Homo sapiens: one gene and its partner. The protein of the gene in region 2 purifies or fractionates together with the protein of the main gene of each other region. This does not show direct contact. Each region holds a gene or a part of one and is shown on either strand. Other genes may lie near its edges.

Region 1 (3,500 bases), on a different chromosome or scaffold from region 2:
AACACATTTTCTTAAAAGGTTGATGGAAAGTTATTATGCTGGCTCTGTACTTTATCGTACAAAAGAGTTTTACAGAAGACGAAAGAACAAAGGAAGAGCCTGGGATCTTCACATTCAAATTCATCTTCTTCATCTCTTACTGAGAAAGACCAGCATCATCCAAAACATCATCACCACCATCATCACCATCACCATCGTCACAGCAGTAGCCATCACAAGTAAGTACTTTGAAATCATATTTTCTAAAACTCTTCCTTGCATTTTAATGCCATTTATTGATGTTTACTTCTTGCAAATATTGACTATGTGCTAGTCTAGTTTCCATTGTACACAGTAAGCATCTTGAGTGTCTAAGGCTGTGTCTCCATTTTATTCAGTGTAGAATGTTATATACATGAAATATGTTGAGCTGTTTACCATAATACAGATATTTAGGAAAATCTATAAAATTATAACCATGTAAAGTCAAAATACAAGTACGTCAGTTAATTAACACTTAAATAACTTATCAAAAGCCTCAGTATTCTTTTTTTGTTTAAATAATTGTTAAGGTTTTATTTGAAAAATTATATTTTAGTTGTCAATTTGTTTTAGTAAAAACAAATCGAAACAAACCAATGACTGGGTTTGGAGAACATATTTTAATACTATAATTTGTTACTATGATAGAAGCATTTCTGATCTTTGTGGTCCCCAAAATATGAGCAATATTTTTAACTAATGATACTTTGTGTTTTTTTCAAACATATATTTAGGAACTCTACTTAAATAGAGACAACTGTAGTTTTCCCTCAGTATGCTTGAGGGATTGGTTCTAGAACCCCCTCATAGACCAAAATTTGCATATACTCCAGTTCTGCAATTGACCCTGTGGAACCTGCCTATAGGAAAAGTTGGCCTTCTATATATGCAGGTTTCACATCCTCCAAATACTGTATTTTTGATCCGTATTTGGTTGGGAAAAAAAAATTCTCCTATAGGTGGTCCCATACATTTCAAACCTGGGTTGTTCAAGGGTCAGCTGTACTTGATTTTTAAAGTGACCTGTGGGGGGAGTTATGTAGTAGTAGTAGTACCTTAACCCTTGATGTGTGTGGTATAAAGATTTTTTAAAATGCAATTTTAGTCTTCACGGAAAAATCAAGAACATGAAAATACAAATTAAACTGACAAACACAAATTAAAATGGAAAAAACGGACATATGGCATGCCCATTTTCAGAATAATTTATTGTTTGTTCTTAAATTTTTCTGTGAGTCTTTAAAGTTTCAGATAGTTATTTAAAACAGAATTTACAAACAACTGATGCCCACCTCATTTTGGAACACATGCAGTATTTTTAGAATGTAATGTAGTTCTGTCTAATTAGTAAGATTTGTTGTAAACTGTATCCAATCACCTATTAGATTATGAGGTTACGTTGAGGTTAGTGATGTTTAATTCTACCATGTTGTAGTGTTTTCTAAATGTGGCAGTGGTAGACTACAATGCAGTGTCTTCTCTTCTGGCTGTTTTGAAGAAACCTTGTGATCTTTATATCAGAGTATTTCAAGAAGCAAAATAATATAAGTCTACCTTGTTTTTGCTTCTTGCTTTAAGAAAAAATATGACAAAATGACTATATACCATAATAGCATATGTCAGACCTACTTCTAAGACTCCCAAAATGTCTCCTTTCCCTATTCTTTACAGATAAATTTGTCTTAGCATGATGTAAAAGGACACAATCAGATTATGTTTGTGAAGACTAAAGTATGTGACAGCAACTTAATTTTTTGAAAGAATGACAGGTTTCAAAAATAAAGGGAAAGAGAACAGTATTGAAAATGAAAGTCTTCAATTTTTTTACTTCTGGTTACTTATGAAATACAAACACTATTTTCTATTTGATGGCTGTTGACCATTTGATGAACAGTTACTTTGTAGGGTCCTATCTTAAGTTCAATAGATCAGAATGAAAATGAGGAGCATTCATATTGTGATAGATAGTGATCGGCAGGGGTAGGGGATGTGGTTGCCAGGTGGCACTAAGGTGGGTCTGAATCTAGGAATGGACAACCCTCAGAAAGATAAGATGGGAATTCCAAGTGTTTCTGTCAGTGATATTAATGTGATTATTCTTAACTTTGAGATATGGTTAGTGCTGTTAGTTCATGTATGGCTTGTTAGGCTTATAATGAAATTTGTGGGAAAAAAAAAAAAGGGACAACTGCATTCCTCAATAGGATTTCCATTCATTCACAAGTAAGAATAACTCACTTGATGGAATTATTGCTATTAACATTTTTTTCCCAACTTGGTACTTGTTTACAGCTGAGTCTTAAGGTTTGTTTTTTTCTTTTGCTTAAAAAACTTCTACAGCTGAACCAATAGTAAATTTTAGACACAAGTAAACATGTATATATATATATGTCTATTTTGTATATGCTAGCACTGTACTAAGTGATTTTACATATATAACTCATTTAATGCTCATATCAGTATAAGGTATGTATTACATATGAGGGAACTAAGGCTGGGGATGTTAAGTAATTTGCATAAGGTCACAGCTCAGGTATTCTAACATCTTCTAAATCGTATAAATACGTGGCATCTGGTTCATAGGAGATGCTCTCTACATGCTGAGTGAATAAGCTAGGGTTAGTGAAGCATTGACTGATATGCAAGTTTAGGAGGAAAAAAATGAAGGATTCATGATGAATTATAAAGTGATTATTAGTATTAGGGTAAAATAGAAAAGGAGTATTACAGTATTAATTATGAGTAAAAGTAAAATAATTTGTTACTATGAAATTTCTCAATAGTTTCAGCGTAACTTCTCCAGAATACTAACTAAAGAGAGCTCTATGGACTTTGGAGAGGATTCTTAAGAAAACTAGGAAAGAATCAAAGAAATCAATATATTTCCCCATTTAAATTGAAATACTATTCTGAGCAACTTGAGTTACTCCAAAAGAAGAATCTCTACTTCAGATTATTAGGAAAGCCTTAACTTTAAAGATACAAATTTTGTGTCTGAAATAGTAAGGGCAGCCAAAGTACAGTGATACCTAGACACAAGCACGAAAACTACTTGTGTAACCCACCCTTTGTATGATATTAAATTGAACTGTGGAGATCCTGATTATAAAGAATTCTTGAAGAACTTGAGATGGTTAGCAGTCATTTTATTAAAATTTATTTCATCAGAATGTGATTTATTCAATATGTATTAGCTTAGTCTGAAAACTTAAATATACCTTTCTCTGAAGAAAATATTATAAACATAAAATTTGTATCCATTGAGAAAGAATGTTAAATTTAGATGTATTAAATAAATAAATGTCATTATTAGATGTCATTTGTGTATTTTTCAGAATCAGCAATCTAAGTCCAGAAGAAGAGCAGGGACTGTGGAAACAGAGGTAAATACATTGCTGTATTTTCTGAAGTATTTTGAAATGTATATTTATAAATGTGATATCCCTTCAACTTTGTTACTTAAGTCTTACCAAAATCAG
Region 2 (5,874 bases):
ATCTACATATATTTTATGTATTAATGACATACCTTTTTCTTAATTTTTTTGATGTTTCCAGGCTACATGGTTTGTCTGCAAGTTTTTTCCAATTGTTTCAAATTCAAATATATTTATTGAAAAAAATACACATATAATTGGACCTGTGTAGTTCAAACCTATGTTGTTAAAGGGTCAACTGTACTTTATATTTGAAATATGAAAGGAAAAACATTGCTACAAAGCATTTTACCTTTTTGTAAGTTTACTTTCTGCTGCACTACATAATTAAAGAGTTGACTTTTTAAAAGTATTTGCTGTTTACATACAGTATATTATTACTCTGTATTTGTATTAATTTAGCAAATTTTGTTGAATCCCTACTGTTTGCAAAGCATTGTGCTAAGTGTCAAAGATAAATACATAACAAGATATAATGATCCCTGTCCTCAAGAAATTTATAATCTTTATGTCACTGGAAATTAAAATGGAAAAATTACAAAACAAGGTGGTAAGTGTCTTAATGATGGGACATAGAGGAAAGAGTACCAGAATCTGCCTAGGCTTTCCTTGACAAAATTTAATCTTTAGATATCTGATTTTTCTTGACTACATATATCAGCAGCAGATTAAAGCGTGGTGAAATTACTCCCGCTTATAATTGTTCTACTTAAACTTGATCTAAATCAGTTTAGTCATGTTTTATTTACTGCCCAGATTAAGGGCTAATTGGGAAGAAATGTCTCTTTTTAAAAGCCCTGAAAAATAAACGACTCAAGTCAGTTTTTGACTAAGTTTTTCAAACTTATAAAACATTACCATGAATTGGTTTCTGTTCCAGTGTCTGGATATTGTTAGTTTAAAATTTTTTAGGTAAATGGGACACACTTTTAATCATCTTCGAAATTTCTTTTAATCATTTAGGTGCAGCCAGAATTATGATAGTTGGAATTTGAGTTGCATTTTTTTTTTTTTAAGGTTTCCTTTGGATCCTAAAAGAAGAAAAGAATGGGTTCGCCTGGTTAGGCGCAAAAATTTTGTGCCAGGAAAACACACTTTTCTTTGTTCAAAGCACTTTGAAGCCTCCTGTTTTGACCTAACAGGACAAACTCGACGACTTAAAATGGATGCTGTTCCAACCATTTTTGATTTTTGTACCCATATAAAGTCTATGGTAGGTAATGTTACTCTCCTTTTGTTAAAACCATTTTTAGAACTCATTCCTTTTTGTTTATGCAGTTATTAACTGAAATTCATTTATAGTGATATGCCTCAAAAAAGTTGCAGACCTTCCTCTTGTACAGTAAAGGTACAGGCTAGAATCAGAGTTTGGGTCTCCTGACTCCAATATTCTTTCCCCAATCCAAATTGTTTTACTATATTGGAATTTTACATTATTACCCATTATTATTAATAATTGCACCATTGGTAAAACTGAAAAATCATATGAGTAATGAAACCTCCAGCATCACTGTGCTCTGATTTTAAAATGACATACAAATAACATGTGCAAAGTACTTTAAGAGCACACAGCCAGAATTAAACCAAAGAATGTAAGTTCAGAGGGAGGCAGGCATGACAGAAATCTTCAGAGAGCTTGGGCATTCAGGGTGGGCTTTTGAAGCCTTGGGAGTTTAAAATAGAGGAAAGGGAACTTGGCTTTGCACAGAATAATTACAGTTGCATAATGAGAACAAAAACGAGTGGGTTGAGGCGTGAGTAGGAAATGTTAGCAAGTGATATTTAAAGGAAAGAATGAAGAAAAAATGAAGCAAAAAAAAGTAAATTAAAAAAAACGAAAGAATAAAGGTATAAGATGAATGAATTAAAACAATGTTTTATCTAGTTAGGGAAGATCTGACCAGAGAGGAAAACCTAGCTGGGAAAGACAGGGTCACCAAGAGTAAGAAAGGGTAAAATGAACACAAATAGTTTAGCTTTGAAAGGGAGGACAAACATGTTTTCCTCTGAGGAAAAACTACTGTTTCTCTTGTTTGTAACTGTTAAACTTTTAAATGTATATGAGTTATTATCTGAATGGAGACGAGGTTGTGGTAAGCTAATTACCACTGATGTTAGAAAAGCTCCAGGAGGACAAGAACTTAGTCTTTTTCACACGTGAATCCTCAGCACCTCAAACAGTGCCTGGGACATAGTATATACTCAAATACTTACTGAATTTGAAATACACCTTATTTTTGACATTTTGATAATTTATTTATTTAATAAATACAACTAAACTTTCCATTATGCCAGAATCTAAGCTCAGTGCTAGAGATACAAAGATCAAAAAAGAGTTCCTGTCAATTCCCTAGGCAGAGGGACTAACTGTAGGTTTCATGAGGATAGGAACCACATCATCTTATTTGTTCAGTGTTGTGTCCCCAGGAATGCATAGTATGTGTTTCAATAAATGTTTAATGAATTAAAGACACAGACTTATGAGGATATGATATAATCTGGAAACTCCCAGTGGCTTAGTATTGCTGGAGTATAAATCAAGATGGTAAATTGCAGAATGGGGTGAGATCCTAAATTGTATAGTATGCCATCTAAAGATTTATTTTTCCTTTAGATAATAGATAGGCAAAGAATAATTTGGCCAGAATGGAAAAGTCAAATATTCTAGAAAAATTATTCTTATGGCAGAATGTGGATTAATGAGGATCAAAATGAAGTGGAGAGATCAATAAAGAATAATATAGTCAGAACAGATATGATACGGGCCCAGTGTAAGTAGTGACATTAAGAATGACAGTGTTCAGCCTTATTGTGGAACAGAGAAAGGAAAAAAAAGAATGACGGAGAGGAGAGGATTCATGGTAGGAATATTTAGTGGGTAGAATTAATAGGACTTGATGACCATTTGAATGAAAGAGATAAAAGCAAAAAAAGTCTCCTGATTTTGGCAAATGTTCCTAGCCAGATTTTAAATCCTTGAAGATATAACCATCAAAAATTAATAGGTAAATCTGTTTAGAAGCTTGGTACTTAAGAATACATTTCTACAGATCCTTCAGTTTTCATTAAATAGGACCCTGGGTCTAAAATATTTATCAAATTGAGAAAAGGGTATTTAATTAAAAGGGGATCAAATTAATATCATAAATAATATCTACATATATTGTAAATTGACCTTAGTAAATTGCAAAGGATCTTTAAAGTCTCTATAGAGTCATAGTCAATAATTTGGAAGAAACCTTGGACGTCCATTGTCTATTTCCAAATCAGTGTTTGAATCTCTCTGGATATGGGACAAAAAGAAATAGGTGACTAGAGTTAATTCAACCAGTTAAAAAACTTAATCTTGGATTACATGAGATGGCTGCTGCTGTTTCCTATTAAAGTTTTAAAATTGACTTTTAAAAGAGCAGTTTAAATACTGTTATCCAAAACTGGACACTATGTGCTTATTTGTGATATTTCATAATTTATGTTCAACCCTCTAATTTTATTCGGCTCAGAAACTCAAGTCAAGGAATCTTTTGAAGAAAAACAACAGTTGTTCTCCAGCTGGACCATCTAATTTAAAATCAAACATTAGTAGTCAGCAAGTACTACTTGAACACAGCTATGCCTTTAGGAATCCTATGGAGGCAAAAAAGAGGATCATTAAACTGGAAAAAGAAATAGCAAGCTTAAGAAGAAAAATGAAAACTTGCCTACAAAAGGAACGCAGAGCAACTCGAAGATGGATCAAAGCCACGTGTTTGGTAAAGAATTTAGAAGCAAATAGTGTATTACCTAAAGGTACATCAGAACACATGTTACCAACTGCCTTAAGCAGTCTTCCTTTGGAAGATTTTAAGATCCTTGAACAAGATCAACAAGATAAAACACTGCTAAGTCTAAATCTAAAACAGACCAAGAGTACCTTCATTTAAATTTAGCTTGCACAGAGCTTGATGCCTATCCTTCATTCTTTTCAGAAGTAAAGATAATTATGGCACTTATGCCAAAATTCATTATTTAATAAAGTTTTACTTGAAGTAACATTACTGAATTTGTGAAGACTTGATTACAAAAGAATAAAAAACTTCATATGGAAATTTTATTTGAAAATGAGTGGAAGTGCCTTACATTAGAATTACGGACTTAAAAATTTTGCTAATAAATTGTGTGTTTGAAAGGTGTTTTTTGTTTTTGTCTTTTTAAACTACTGTTAAAAGAACAGCTTATGATAAGTAATATGTTTAACTTAGAGAAGAATTTTTTCCTGTACCAAAGTTGGCATATTGCATTCTAAATAAGATGCTAAATAAGAGTTAACCAACATTCAACATGACCTTAAAACTGCTGGGTTTTGTATTAATTAAATTATAATTGGCACTGTGATTTGAAAAATTTATAGAAAAAAAGGTACAGGGCAAGTTTTTAAATTAAAACTTTCTATATTTTGTTTTACCAGTAAAAGTGAGCTTATCATGGCCTCTCTCATAAGAATGATTTTAAAATAGGTTGTAAAATATTTTGAAAATATTTGAATGTGAAGTACCATTGAGTCATCCAAACTAGGTAAGGCCTCAAGTACTTTAAACTAGTAAAATCTAGTAGCTGATAATATTCACCTAAGTAAGTGTTGTAAAATAATTCAGAGTTCAGGACCTAGCTTAGATAAATGTATACTACTCTTTTTCTCATAATAAAAATCTTACATTTCCAACTTCAAAATTGGTGCTTCCATATTTGTTGATAACCAAAACTCCTAAGGTTTTTTGTTTTCTTTTTAACTACTTTCCAAATGCATACTATACCTCAGAAATAGTGTATCAATATAGTGGGCTTTTTTTTTCCTCTTCATAAACCCACAGTAAAATTTAATCACAGGAAACTACTTATATCTTCACACTTTGTATTGATAACTTAAAATGGCATCAGTTTATCTTAGACATCAGCTTGCTTTTTATCTCCTTTTTTAGTGAGTGAAATAGAGCAACTAGCATGCCTGTGTTCCCAGCTACTTGGGAGGCTAAGGTGGGAAGATCAATTGAACCTAGGAGGTTGAGGCTATAGTGAGCTGTGATTGCACGACTGCACTCCAGCCTGGGCAATGGAGTGAGACTCCTGTCTCTAAAACAGCAACAACAAAAATAAAGCAACCATAGTGCATAAGGGAAATTAAATGTTCCCTATAGAAATATGTGTATGTCTGTGATAGTGGTATGCAAATGCTAATTATTTTATAAAATAAAAGTTCAGAACTATTCTTATCATTGCCACTTGAACAATTAAAGGGTTTGCTTTATTTCACTAATGTTTAATAGGAACCCTTTGCTTCAAACAGCTTTGTTGAAATCATGTAAAAATTTGTTAATAGAGAATCAAGTTATTTAACTCAACTTATTTAATTCAAGCTTGTGATACTAACATACAAAGGTAGCATAAACCAAGTCATAAATTGCTGTAATCTTTCCTGTAAAGTAATAGCTACTTCATGATTTTTTTAAAAATTTCATTTTTTTGCTATTTAGGATTGCATTTGCTTGGCTCCTAGTAACAATTCTTTTACAGTATTAGCACTCTCTTTACTAAGGAATGCCTCCCAAGGAAATGCAAAGGTAGGAAAAGTCTCTTAGAATGCCCATGAGGTATTTAAAACAGATATTTATGAAAATCTTTTTGTGAATGTTATAAATCTTGCTAGTTATTTTATCTTTATCTTAAGTATTAGATGTAGTTCCTTGGAATTGTCATTACATATTTATTTTTTTCTAGTATGGTTTCAAATAACTTTTTGCCAACATATAATCATCATCAAACATTCACTGACCATATCTATTTTATAACTCAAAATAAGTTGGACAAATAATCATTTTAATAAAAACTATTTTTTCCAAGTATAACCACTGTCATGTGGTTCACCCTTCACCCCAGATACAAAACACTTATTTGTGT

Evidence for each region.
Region 1: the proteins of THAP2 (region 2) and FAM76B purify together in Homo sapiens (affinity purification with mass spectrometry; one large-scale study listed by BioGRID and IntAct). This does not show direct contact.

The regions. Positions count from the first base shown.
Region 1 is NC_000011.10:95,779,783-95,783,282, reverse strand, and holds part of FAM76B (protein FAM76B), read left to right. Parts: intron 1-18; coding exon 19-218; intron 219-3,334; coding exon of another isoform or gene 3,335-3,356; coding exon 3,357-3,404; intron 3,405-3,500. UniProt on the Homo sapiens protein: Negatively regulates the NF-kappa-B-mediated inflammatory pathway by preventing the translocation of HNRNPA2B1 from the nucleus to the cytoplasm.
Region 2 is NC_000012.12:71,673,246-71,679,119, forward strand, and holds part of THAP2 (THAP domain-containing protein 2), read left to right. Parts: intron 1-957; coding exon 958-1,153; intron 1,154-3,443; coding exon 3,444-3,863; 3' UTR 3,864-5,874.